Regions from separate parts of the Homo sapiens genome. Here regions 2, 3 and 4 are each reported to be linked to region 1. The links are microRNA targets in miRTarBase. Many come from high-throughput screens and were not tested one by one. Region 1 holds a microRNA gene; each other region holds the end of a gene's coding sequence. Distances are between the middles of the regions.
The links. The annotated mature microRNA hsa-miR-552-5p reads GUUUAACCUUUUGCCUGUUGG and lies in region 1 at 2,036-2,056, opposite strand. An mRNA with a match to its seed (bases 2 to 7 or 8) in the 3' UTR can be bound and repressed. Matches are read on the target gene's strand: a 7mer-m8 pairs with bases 2 to 8, a 7mer-A1 pairs with bases 2 to 7 and ends in A, and an 8mer does both.

Region 2: the mRNA of GDPGP1 is a reported target of hsa-miR-552-5p. Seed matches in the 3' UTR shown: 7mer-A1 at 1,146-1,152.
Region 3: the mRNA of SH3GLB1 is a reported target of hsa-miR-552-5p. The part of its 3' UTR that is shown has no 7-base or 8-base seed match.
Region 4: the mRNA of ANKRD46 is a reported target of hsa-miR-552-5p. Seed matches in the 3' UTR shown: 8mer at 1,455-1,462.

What each region holds. Positions count from the first base shown.
Region 1 is chr1:34,667,615-34,670,716 of GRCh38, forward strand. It overlaps MIR552 (microRNA 552), which reads right to left and starts at 2,080; the gene lies at 1,985-2,080. The region is part of intron 1 of LOC105378641 (a long non-coding RNA gene); the gene reads right to left.
Region 2 is chr15:90,241,885-90,244,986 of GRCh38, forward strand. GDPGP1 (GDP-D-glucose phosphorylase 1) reads left to right here. Exons shown (of 4, transcript NM_001013657.3): 4 at 1-3,102. The coding sequence ends at 182. It also overlaps a transcript of CIB1 not described here. Among named protein-coding and RNA genes, the nearest start is that of TTLL13, 6.1 kb to the right of the region's middle.
Region 3 is chr1:86,742,815-86,745,916 of GRCh38, forward strand. SH3GLB1 (SH3 domain containing GRB2 like, endophilin B1) reads left to right here. Exons shown (of 9, transcript NM_016009.5): 9 at 314-3,102. The coding sequence ends at 421. Among named protein-coding and RNA genes, the nearest start is that of SH3GLB1, 40 kb to the left of the region's middle.
Region 4 is chr8:100,519,735-100,522,836 of GRCh38, reverse strand. ANKRD46 (ankyrin repeat domain 46) reads left to right here. Exons shown (of 5, transcript NM_001270377.2): 5 at 66-2,065. The coding sequence ends at 282. Among named protein-coding and RNA genes, the nearest start is that of ANKRD46, 38 kb to the left of the region's middle.

The sequences.
Region 1 (3,102 bases):
GTAATGCCTTATCCTGATTAATGACGGACCCACACACTGTTATATCCATGGTCACCAAGAGAAAAGCTAACATTCTTGGAAGCAGCATTACTCTTAAAATTGCAATAATCTCCAGGGAAAATAACCCAATTTAAACTTATTCCCTCTTTAGCTAGAATGTGTTTAACTCTTTTAAACTTGTTCTTTGCTGTTACCTGTGTCCTTCAAAGACATGCCCCTTGTTATTCTACGTAACTCCCTTCACTCAGACCTTCAATAATTGCAAAAGCAATTTAACCCCCAGTTTACCATGATACTATTAAAGAGTAAAATAGTCAGTAGCCCAAAGAAATTCTTAGGAAGCCAACACTTTCAATTGGCATGCTTTTTTTAGACCCTAAATTCATATGCATAAATATGCATTCGTTCAGTCTGTCAACCCACGTCTAGGTAATGGTTGAATAAGTTAGAGGAGCTCTCTGACGTCAGGGAACTTACATTCTAGTCAGAAGAGGCAGATACATGAATCAACAAACAAGACCATTCAGGATGCATACGCATTGATCTGAAAGTCTCTTCACTTCACTTGCCTGAGCTGAGGTGGGACCACAATCTTTGAAGAACCAAAGAAGGAGAGTTCTCAGAAGAGGTTATAGCAAGTGCAAAGGTCCTGTGGCAGGAAAGAGCTTGCCAGGCTCAGGAGGTGGAAACATACATTGCCAAATACAAATACACACACAACATATACACCAACACACACCAAAGACTTTCTACAAGGTTTCATTAAATACTGAGTGGGTACAAAAGATATTTATAAAACATGTCTGCTGTACAAAGAATAACAATAAAGGGAACATTCGTGTATCCCACCATCCAGTTTAGAAATGAAAGCGTGACCATCAAGCATGACCTCTTTGATCTGATTGCCTCTCTTCGTAACCCAGAGAAATGCTAATCTGAATTCATTCTCCAATGTTTTTTTTCTTTATCACCTTATATCCTGAACAATATATTGTTTAATACGTTTTTGATCTCTAAGACTAGAATCTTGCAGTTATGTAGGTTTGTATGGCTTGGGGTTTTTGTAGCCAAGTCAAAGCTATGATAAATTTGTTTCTGAAATTTTTGAGTGAAAGAGTTAATAATTTTTAATTAGAATTTGTTATTGAGATAATTATAAATTCATATGCAATTCTGTGTACCATTTATCCAGTTTCCCCCAGTGGTAACTGATATGGTCTGGCTGTGTCCCCACCCAAATCTCATCTTGAGTTGTAGCTCCCATAATTCCCACGTGTTGTGGGAGGGACCCAGGGGGAGATTATTGAATCACGGGGGTGGTTTCCCCCATACTGTTCTCATGGTAGTGAATAAGTCTCACAAGGTCTGATGGTTTTATAAGGGGAAACCCCTTTCACTTGGTTCTCATTTCTCTCATATCTGCCACCATGTAAGACGTGCCTTTCACCTTCTGCCATGATTGTGAGGCCTCCTCAGCCATGTGAAACTGTAAACCCATTAAACCTCTTTTCCTTTATAAACTACCCAGTCTCAGGTATGTCTTTATCAGCAGCATGAGAAGAGACTAATACAATAACATTTTTAAAACACTAGTACAATATCATAACCAGGATATTGACATGATACAGCTCACCAGTCTTACCCAGATTTCTCCAATTTACTTGTATCATTTGTGGTCTGTGTGTGTGTGTGTGTGTCCATCACTAAAGTCAAGACATCAGCCAGTCCATCACCATGAGGATCCTTCATGTTGTGCCTTTATAACCACCTCCCTCCACCTCACCACATTCTTAACCCTCAACAACCACTAATCCCTTCTCTATCTGTAACATTTGTCATTTCAAAATGTTATATAAATGTAATCATACATATGTAGCCTTTGGCATTGACTTTTTTCACTCATAATAATTCCCCAAAGATTCATCCAAGTTGTTTGTAATCAATAGCTTGTTGCTTGTTTATTGCTGAGTAGTATTCCATCCTGTGTATATACCACAGTTTGTCTAACCAGTCACCTGTTGAAAGGCATCTTCAACCAACAGGCAAAAGGTTAAACAAACTGTGGTATATTTGAATGGTTAAACAAACTGTAGTATATTCGACTATTACAAATAAAGCTGCTGTGAACACTTGGCTATTGCAAATAAAGCTCCCCAGGTTTTTGTGTGGACATAAGTTTTTATTTCCCTGGGATAAACACCTGAGGGCGCTACTGCTGGGTCATAGGCATGCTGGGTTTTATAATTAGCTGCCCTCTGTTTTCTAGGCTAGATCTACAATTTTACATCCCATCAACAATATATGAACAAGCCTATTTCTCTACATCCTTGCCAATGTTGGGTGTTCTCATTTTTTTTTTATTTTAGCAATTCTGATAGATGCATAGTGATATGTTATCATGGTTTTAATTTGCATTACCCTTATGTTGAACATATTTCATGGATTTTTTTTGCCATTTGAATAACTTACACTATGGAATATCTATTCATGTGTTTTGCCCATGTTCTAGTAGATTACTTGTTTTCTTTTTACCATTGAGTTTTGAGAGCTCTTATATAATCAAGATTCTAGTCCTTTTCAGGTGTGTGATTTGAAAATATCTTCTCCTACTCAGCAACTTGTCTATAGCTTGCTTTTTTACCCAAGATTATTGTCCTCAGTTTTATCTATGCAGATGGATTTTTTTGGTTTTGTTGCTGTATCATTCTACTATTGTTTTGTATTTTGCTGTATCATTATACTATTGATGGACATTGCTTATTGTTCTGCTTTCACAAGCCATGTTACCATGGGCTTTCTTGATGTGTCCACTGCTGCACCTATATAAGTTCTCTAAGGTATAGACCTAGTAACATTTCTGGATCACAGGGTATGTGCATTATTAATGTTATTAGATAATGCTGAATTTATGCCAAAGAAATTTCATCACTTAGAACTGCCACCAGCAGTGTAAAAGTTCCTATTACTCCATGCCTTTGCTAGCACTTGATCTTATCAGACTTTTTTTCAATTTTAACAATGTAATGGGCATATAATGATATCTATTTCATTTGTATTTCCCAAGTTACAAATAATCATACAAATAAATACAAATAGTTCCTT
Region 2 (3,102 bases), not on the chromosome of region 1:
AAGCTTTCAATGTTGCCCTCTGTGAGCTGGCTGGGCACCTCCCTGTCAAAACATCCCAGGACTTCAGCAGCCTGACAGAGGCAGCTGCTGTGGCCCTCATTCAGGACTGTCGGCTGCCCCCATCCCAGGCAGAAGACGTACAGGCAGCACTGGTGGCCCTGATGTCCCAGGAAGAGCAATAATACTTCTGGATGTATTTATGTTCTTTTTTTCTTTTCTTTTGAGATAGGGTCTCACTCTGTCCCCAGGCTAGAGTGTAGTGGTATGATCCTGGCTCACTGTAGCCTCCACCTCTGGGGCTGAAGTGATCCTCCCACCTCAGCCTCTTGAGTAGCTGAGACTATAGGCGTGCACCACCACACACCTGGCTTTTTTTTTTTTTTTTTTTTTTTTTAACGATTAGGTGATTTTGTATTTTTTTATATAGACAGCGTTTCACCATGTTGCCCAGGCTGGTCTTGAACTCTTGGGCTGAAGCAGTCCTCCCACCTCGGCCTCCCAAAGTACTGAGATGACAGGAGTGAGCCCCTGGATTCTTTTCTGTTTCTTTTTTTTTTTTTTTTTTTTTTTTTTTTTTTGAGATAGTCTCGCTCTGTCACCTAGGTTGGGGTGCACTGGTACAATCTCGGCTCACTGCAACCTCCACCTCTAGGGTTCGAGTGATCCTCCTGGCTCAGCCTCCCGAGTAGCTGGGACTATACAGGCTCCTGCCACCAAACCCGGCTAATTTTTTTGTATTTTTAAAAGAGAAGGGGTTTCACCACATTGGCTAGGCTGGTCTTGAACTCCTGACTTTAGGTGATCCGCCCGCCTCGGCCTCCCAAAGTGCTGGGATTACAGGCGTGAGCCACCACACCCAGCCAGGATGTATTCATTTTCTACCTGATGAGTCCCTTTCCAGAGCACTGTCCATCATAGTCCTTTGGACATTTATTTTCATGGCTGCCTTCTCACCTGTCTCAGCCTAAGAAGAAGGATGAAGAAAGCTGATAATGATCTCTTAAAGGGGAGAAAGATAATGGTCTCTTTAAAGGGGAGCTGATAGTGGTCTCTTTAAAGGGGAGAAAATCTGGAATAATTCTACTGAGTAAGACATCATGAATGTATCTGCTACCTCTCCCCGTTCTTGTTCAAGCCCCAGGGGTGTTAAAAAGGAGTGTGTGTGACAGTTACACACTCCTGACTTTACATTTAGATTTTGTCTTCCTTTGATATCAAATGTTAGCACGGTAATAGTGCCTGTGCCTCCAGTATTGAGCTGCCACTTCTGTTCTCAGCCTGTTTATTCCCCTTTGCTCACCACTTATTTTTATTGCTTTGTCCCTTCTTTCCATTTAGCCCTGCTCCACCCAAATGCCCCACTCCTTCACTTTCCCTGCCACCTTGAGCTTTCCTCTAGCCCCCAACACCAAGTTGAATGCTCTTCACTGACATCATCTGATGTAAAAACACAGTGTTGTCACAACTTTCCGGGTGCACGTCTTTTTTTGTTTTGTTTTTTTGTAAGGCTGGGGTGCAGTGGTGCAATCACAGCTCACTGCAGACCCAAACTCTTGGTCTCAAGCCACCCTCCCACCTCAGCCCCCTGAGTAGCTGGGACGATAGGTGTGCACCATCACACCTGGCTAATTTTTAAATTTTTTGTAGAGATAGGGTCTTGCTATGTTGCCCGGGTTGCTGTCAAACTCCTGGCCTTAAGAAATCCTCCCACCTCGGCCTCCCAGAGTGCTAAGATGCCACCACACCTTGGTGCAGGTTTTTTTTTTTTTTTTTTTTTTTTTTTTTTGACACAGGGTCACTGTCACCCAGGCTGGAGTGCAGTGGTATGAAGACAGCTAACTGCAAGCTTCAACCTCCTGGGCTCAAACAATACTCCCATCTCAGCCTCCCTAGTAGCTGGGACCACAGGCATGCGCCACCACACCCGGCTATTTTTTTGGAGAGATAGCATCTTGCCAAGTTGCCCAGGCTGGTCTCGAACTCCTGGCCTCAAGATCCTCCCACCTCAGCCTCCCAAAGTGCTGAGATTATAGGCATGAGCCACTGCACCTGGCCTGAGTTTTTTTTTTTTTTTCTTGAATCAGAGTTTCACTCTGTTGCCCAGGCTGGAGTGCAGTGGTGTGATCTCGGCTCACTGCGTCTCTGCCTCCTGGGTTCAAGCAATTCAGCCTGAGTCTTCTTAATACCCCCATTCAAAACGGGATGGAGACTGACAGTTTGTACTTTGTTCAAGGTCAGGCAGCTGGAGTCGGGACTGCAGCACAGGCAGGTACCAGAAGATGAGCTGGGACAATGTGTGCTTGTGACCGCCTCTCCAGTCAGTGGTTCCCATGGTGGGTAGCACTGTCCTTAACAGTTTGCCCTCCCTGAGCCTCAGCCATCCCTCTTGGGGTCTTTCCCAAGCACTTTAGAAGCTCCTCTTGATGTAGACACAAAATCCAAAGCTAAGTCGTTGTTCCTCCGTCTGCATCTGAGTCAATGTGGGAAATTTTTTTTTATCTCATTGCTTTGTTCTGTCCTGTTTCTCCAGACATTTCACACTGGTTCCAGAGGAACTAGTCAGTAGACACTATTCTAAGAGAGTATGTGGGTGTGAAATCTCATTTTCCTTTTAGCTCCCTTGAATGTTATACAGCAAAAGTAAAAGAAGTCTTGGGTTGGCTGGGCACGTTGGCTCACACCTTTAATCCTAGCACTTTGGGAAGCCGAGGCAGGCAAATCACTTGTCAGGAGTTCGAGACCAGCCTGGCCAACATGGTGAAACCCCATCTCTACTAAAAATACAAAAATTAGGCGTTGTGGCGGCCACCTGTAATCCCATCTACTTGGGAGGCTGAGGCAGGAGAATCACTTGAACCCAGGAGGCGGAGGTTGCAGTGAGCTGAGATTGCACGACTGTACTCCAGCCTGGGCGATAGTGCGAGACTCAGTCTCAAAATAAATAAATACATAAAGTCTTGGGTCCAGCTCTCAACAGAGATTATCACCGCCACCACTCCTTCATCAAACATCCTGAAGGAATGAGAGTCCCTGTTCACAGCGTAAGGGTGAAAGGGGGCTCACACAGGTGGGTTCTGGCTGCTGTCTGAGTGGGCTCACCCA
Region 3 (3,102 bases), 52 Mb from region 1:
GCTGGGCATGGTGGTGTGCGCCTGTAGTCCCAGCTACTCAGGAGGCTAAGGTGGGAGGATCGTTTGAACACGAAAGGTCAAGGCTGCAGTGAGCCGTGATCATGCTGCTGCACTACAGCCTGGGCAACAGAGTGAGACCCTGCCTCAAAAAACTAATAATAATAAATAAATCCTTTGTTTTTCAGCACAATTGATAATAACGTTTAAAGTCCTTTTGGTGAATAATTTAAACAAATTAAATACAAATCTGATTGGTTTTCTACTTGTTTATTTTTTTAATGTAGTTAATAACTGGAAGTATTTTATTTTGCAGGTGATCACTGTGTTCAGTGTTGTTGGAATGGATTCAGACTGGCTAATGGGGGAAAGGGGAAACCAGAAGGGCAAGGTGCCAATTACCTACTTAGAACTGCTCAATTAAGTAGGTGGACTATGGAAAGGTTGCCCATCATGACTTTGTATTTATATACAATTAACTCTAAATAAAGCAGGTTAAGTATCTTCCATGTTAATGTGTTAAGAGACTGAAAATACCAGCCATCAGAAACTGGCCTTTCTGCCAATAAAGTTGCATGGTAAATATTTCATTACAGAATTTATGTTAGAGCTTTCATGCCAAGAATGTTTTCTTACAAAATTCTCTTTTTATTGAGGTTTCACTAATAAGCAGCTTCTACTTTTGAGCCTCAACTTAAAGCAGAACTGTTTTCTACTGGATTTTTCATTAACAGCAAGCTTTTTCTTTTATGTAAAATAAATCTATTGTGAATTGATATCAGCGACTCATTTATTAGGTATAAATAATAGCCAAAGAATAAAATTAAAATTTATTTTAAACTTTCGGTCTTAAAAAGAGCTGTAGGATATAAACCTCTTTTGTGAAAAGTAGAATTTTCTGAATGCTTTCATAGACAAAAACGCATTTAAACTATGTTTACCTGGTTTTCCAACAGAAATCAAATGATTTTAATATTATGTTTTGATGGGTTATTTTCAGAGTTGTTTGGTTTTTTAAACACTACTGAATGGTTTCTTTTAAATTTAAGAACAACTAGTTCTTGAAAAGCAATACCGTATTTCTCTGATAAATTTGTAGTTAAGGTTCTAGAAAATCTAGGACAAATTTACTTCATTAAACATAAAGTTTTTAAGATTATTCAGTTGGCACAATTTAATGCATAATTGGGATTGGATCCATTTACTGTACTGTGGTACAGTAAAGAGAATGTGTTCTTATTGAACAGCAGATTTGTATACAAATACGGAATAATGCAACTACATTATAAATTGTATACGAACAAAATAAATTGGGTCACTCTGAGCTTACTATTAAAACATTGAAAATTTATTAATGAACACAGGCTATCTTGATGAGGATCTCTGCTTATGAAACACATACTAATGAAATTATTAGTGACACATTGGAAGCTAGAAAATTGCTGTTGGGGCCATTGCTATAAATCATTGTTTCCATGTTAAGACTTCTGTTCTAATTCATTCATTCAACAAACATTTGTTGAGGGCCAGATACTGTGCTGGTCAACTGGGGATACTGTCCTGAACAATATGCACACAGTTCTTGCCCCTGCAGAGCTTAAAGACCATTAAAGGATACAGAAAATTAAGCAATTATCCTATAGTAGGATTCGTGGTGTGATGGGGAAAATACAAGGTACTGTATTTGGGAGTCATGTAACTCCAGTTTTGGGAGTGAGAGAGGGTCTGGGGAAGAACTGTTCCAGATAAAAAGATGTGTAACCAAGATAGCATAGCACATTCTGACAACTAAAGCAATTTACTCTAACTTAAGCATGAAGTACAAAAGTATAGTTCATTTATTGAGGGAATGTTAAGCTATTAAAATGATACTTTTTGGTACTTTTAAAAAAATGAATACTTAAACACCGTTTTAAAATTTTGTGTTAAGAGCTCCTAATAAGAACTTGGTAAACATGTTGACAATTTAACTCACAGTCTAAACTTTAAAAGTAGTAGTTACCCTTTTATTTCTGTGCCATGAGACAAATTCTTCTGCAGTTTTATAGTTGTACAAGATGTTTTGACTCACTCTCAATTGCCATATTCTTAAAGAAACCCTGAAAAGCTGCTCAAGCTGGTCAGTTTTCTGTAAAACCAAGTAAATGAAATTTTCTCTCCCCTCAGAAAGGAAGTTCTACAGCCTAGAGTACCATCTATTGTGTTTTATAAGTCCAGATTTAGGCTTTGAAAGATCATACCAAAACTTCAGATCGACTTAAACAGCAACTATGAATTAGGTTTATGGGAAATGTAGTAATACAGGGGAAAGAATATCGGTAATGGAGTGAAATGGTCCTGGGTTCAAATCCAGTCTTCCTCACATATTGTGCTCTTTAAGCTTCAAATGAGATGTATAACTGCCTTTTCCTTACCAGTAAAATGAGGACAATAATTATGACACCATAGGGTGGTTGTGAGGATTAGCAAATGTTATCTTGTATTTCAGGTGCCTTTCAGGGAAAGGCTTGGCACATAGTAAACACATCCTGTAAATATCAGTTTCCCCTTGTTAGCCCCTGTAGCATCCTGACCTACCAAGTCTATAGGCCTTGCATATCACTGTGCACCAGAGATACCTCTTTTACATCTGGGCTCTGTTTTCTCTCTATCAATCCTATCCTCCACCCTCTTTAAATCAGACCCCAGGTTTAACCTTCCCACAGTCAGTATAAATCATTTTTCAGAACTTTCAGCTTTCCATCAAGTGAAAGTTGATTTTAGTTACCCAGTAATGTACAGAAACCTTCAATAATGTTAAGCTTCAAAGGCTTCTGGTACGTTTGTCTACCACAGAACCACCACAATATATATGCTTGTTCTTAGGTTTATTGCTTTTTATTTTAATGGGGTTTGGTTGTTTGGGTTTTATTTTGGTTTTGGCTTATTTTAAAGTCAAGTTTAGTTTTTACTCAGGTAAAGGCCTGAAGTTTCTTGGGCGTGGAAGAAAAAGCTTGGGAAGCCTATTAATTCATGGTGCAGTTCAGAATTGTTTAAATAAGCTCTGTGCCACTGAGCTTAATCTGAAAGTATAGTGACATGTGAAGGATGCACATATGAATGAAA
Region 4 (3,102 bases), not on the chromosome of region 1:
TGGTTTTATGTTTTTGGAATTGCTGTGTTTTTTTAATGCCCTTTTTGCTCTTTCTTCTTCCACAGTGCCATGGAAAGCCATTCACTCCTCAATCCCAACCTGCAGCAAGGTGAAGGAGTCCTCTCCAGCTTCCGAACCACGTGGCAGGAGTTTGTGGAGGATCTGGGCTTCTGGAGAGTATTGCTGTTGATCTTCGTCATTGCTTTGCTGTCTCTTGGCATTGCTTATTATGTGAGTGGGGTGCTACCCTTCGTGGAAAACCAGCCTGAACTGGTGCATTAAAGGAGCTCATGGAAGATGAGGCAATTAATTGCCTGTTTCCTGGCTTCCAATGTTTGTTCTCAGTTTCTCAGAATTTTTCTTAGCGCAAAGCAGTGAGGGCAGTACATGTTCTTTTTGCATTTTTAATTATTGTAATCCTTTTAGATAATGATGTGTTCATTTGAACTAACTACATACTATGATCAAGTATATTGCATCCTAACGCTACCTCTGACTCAACCTGACTTTGTAGGAAAGCCTACACGTAGCCTTGTTTGATAAAAACACGGAAGTGACTAGAGAATGGAAGATAAAGGAAGAAGCTAGGAAGTCCTTGCTATCAAAACCTTATCCTAATATAGGACCAATTGAAGTATTCAAAAAGAAAAACAGTATCTTATATGATTAGTTTTTGTTGGTGGTTTTGTTTTCATTTATTTTTGCAAGAGCCACTTTTTATTTACTTTCTCTAGGGATAAGAGATAAAACTTGAAGTACTTTTTTCAAATCTTGTGTGCAAATTAGTATTGTTAGCATCTATTTGGCTTATTTTAGTATTTTTAAGTCTAGTCACAAACCAAACAAAACTTTTGAAAATGAGCTATATTTTGTTCAAAGATAATTGATTTGATCTTATATTTATTTGTTTTTAGGATAATTTTTGATCTTTTTGTAAACTGCTTTGCTTGTTAATATCTGTGAAAAATAAATGAGTTCATTTTGTTCACTTTCCAATTTTCCCGAGTATCCTAGTCATCAAAGATAACAGTTCATCAGAATTACAGTCAGAAAATCCTTTTTCTACTGAATAGTTAGCAGGGAAAAATAATTCTGATATTTAACTGTCATAATTCTGTAGTGCTATTATAGTGAAAAACTCAGTTCTATAAGCTAGCTGTGTTGTCACAGTTTTATCATAGTTCATAATTATTTCATGTGCAATCCTATTTGGAGGCCCTGTTAGACTTTTAACAATCCCATCCATATCTGTAATTCTCTGATGGCAAGAATGGATGGAGCATTTCTGAGTTAACAGTGCTGGACAGTATCGTACTGGGTGTCATAAACTCTTTATGAATGGTAATATTATGTAAATTGAAATCTGGCCCTCAAACTATATTGCAGCTTTCAGCAGTATGTTTGAAGGCCTCTTTTGTTAATGATTCTGTAATGTATGAATTATGTTCTTGAGTGGTTAAAAAAGAATATGAAGGCTTGATAATTATTTATTGGGTAAAGTCAGGAAATTGTAGTGAAAGAACTAATGGTTTTGTTTTTTGGAATAAAGGCACCTAAGCTATTGCTAATTGAATTGCTGCTAGAATTAGAAATTATGCTTTAGAATAGAATTGGTATTTCTGTGATTCTTTTTGCTTCTTGGTATTTTCTCTTGTATCTATGTATCTAGTATTGAGGCTTGCTCTTTCATGTGGCTTTATCCTCTCTTTAATAGCTGTTGTAAAATTCCTGAGTAACTGGCTGCTTCAGGATCAGCTTGCAGAGTCTTGCTTTTAGGTTAGATACAAACAAAGTAAATCATAGTTGGTGTAAATCCAGCAAAAAACAGCTGGCTTTGGAATGGAGAACACTACAATTCAAATTTGAAGTATATTCAGAAGAAAACTTTGGAATTAGCTTTACATTTGTTTGTAAATCTAAACAAATATGCAAAATTGGTCAAAATGTAAGTATATAGCATTTTTAAAGATTAATGGTTCCTTTTATGTGCTGATTTCTTTGTATTCTGTTCTCTGCATTCATCATTCAGGAATACCACCAATAAATGTATTTATATATCCCTTAATCACGATTTCTCTTTTTTTTTTTTTTTTTTAGTGTATTATAGTTTTAATTTGGGGATTTTGTAATGGATTGCAATTAGCTGCTTTTTAAAACACAGCTTTTTTTCAAACCTAATGTATTAGGTATATTGAGTTTCATATATGTTTGCCTTATAAATACTGTGAAATTAATTTGAGTGAATTGCTCGTAGATTTAAGGGTGATGATCATAACTACCACAATTAAGCCCCTCCCAATTATGCAAGTTTTTAGCATGCAAGTTTTACCCTACGCCCCCTTGAGCACTACATGACCCCAGTTTATAAGATGAGAAAATGGACACAGGGATGGCTAAGTAACTTGTCCAAGGTCAAACAGGTAGGACCTGGTGGAAGAGGGATTCCAGATTGAGGCTCCAGCCCCAATTATGCTTGTGCTTTCCTCCTGTCCCGCTGTCTTTCATGAATCTGGAAATGGAACCATATTTATCCAGAACCTCGCCTGATACCATTTCAGCAGGACATTACTAAATTTTCCACTCGTGGTCCTATATACTTACTTTTTTTCCTTTCTTACACATCTTCCCAGTGGTAGAAGCTTTAATATTCAAGCTCCAACCCTGGCTTGTCAGAAAGTCTTCCATAGTTAACCGTACTTGACTGCCTCCTTCCCAACCCCTCCTTTCCCCACCACTTACCACACTCAGTTTTATTACTTGTATTTTGCATTCCTTGATCCGTTTCTCTGTAAACATGATTTTCTTTCTAACTTGTTTAATTGTAAGCTTCATGAGAGCAGGGACTTAGTCTATTTTTATAACCCCATCTGTCTACAGAGCATCCTGTAGAGCTCTTGGTACACAAATACTTATAGCATTGCTTTTATACCTGTAGCTATATTTTTTCTTTTCAGGTTGAATAGCTCTTTGCCTTTTATGCATCCCCCGCAACAAGCTGCAGGTGTGAGCTGTGCTTGGTCCTCCTTCCACAGTGCGCCTGTAGCTTCATGAACGAACTATACAGGCTGGCAGTGTGGAGCCCCCTCACCTGTGGAGCATGCA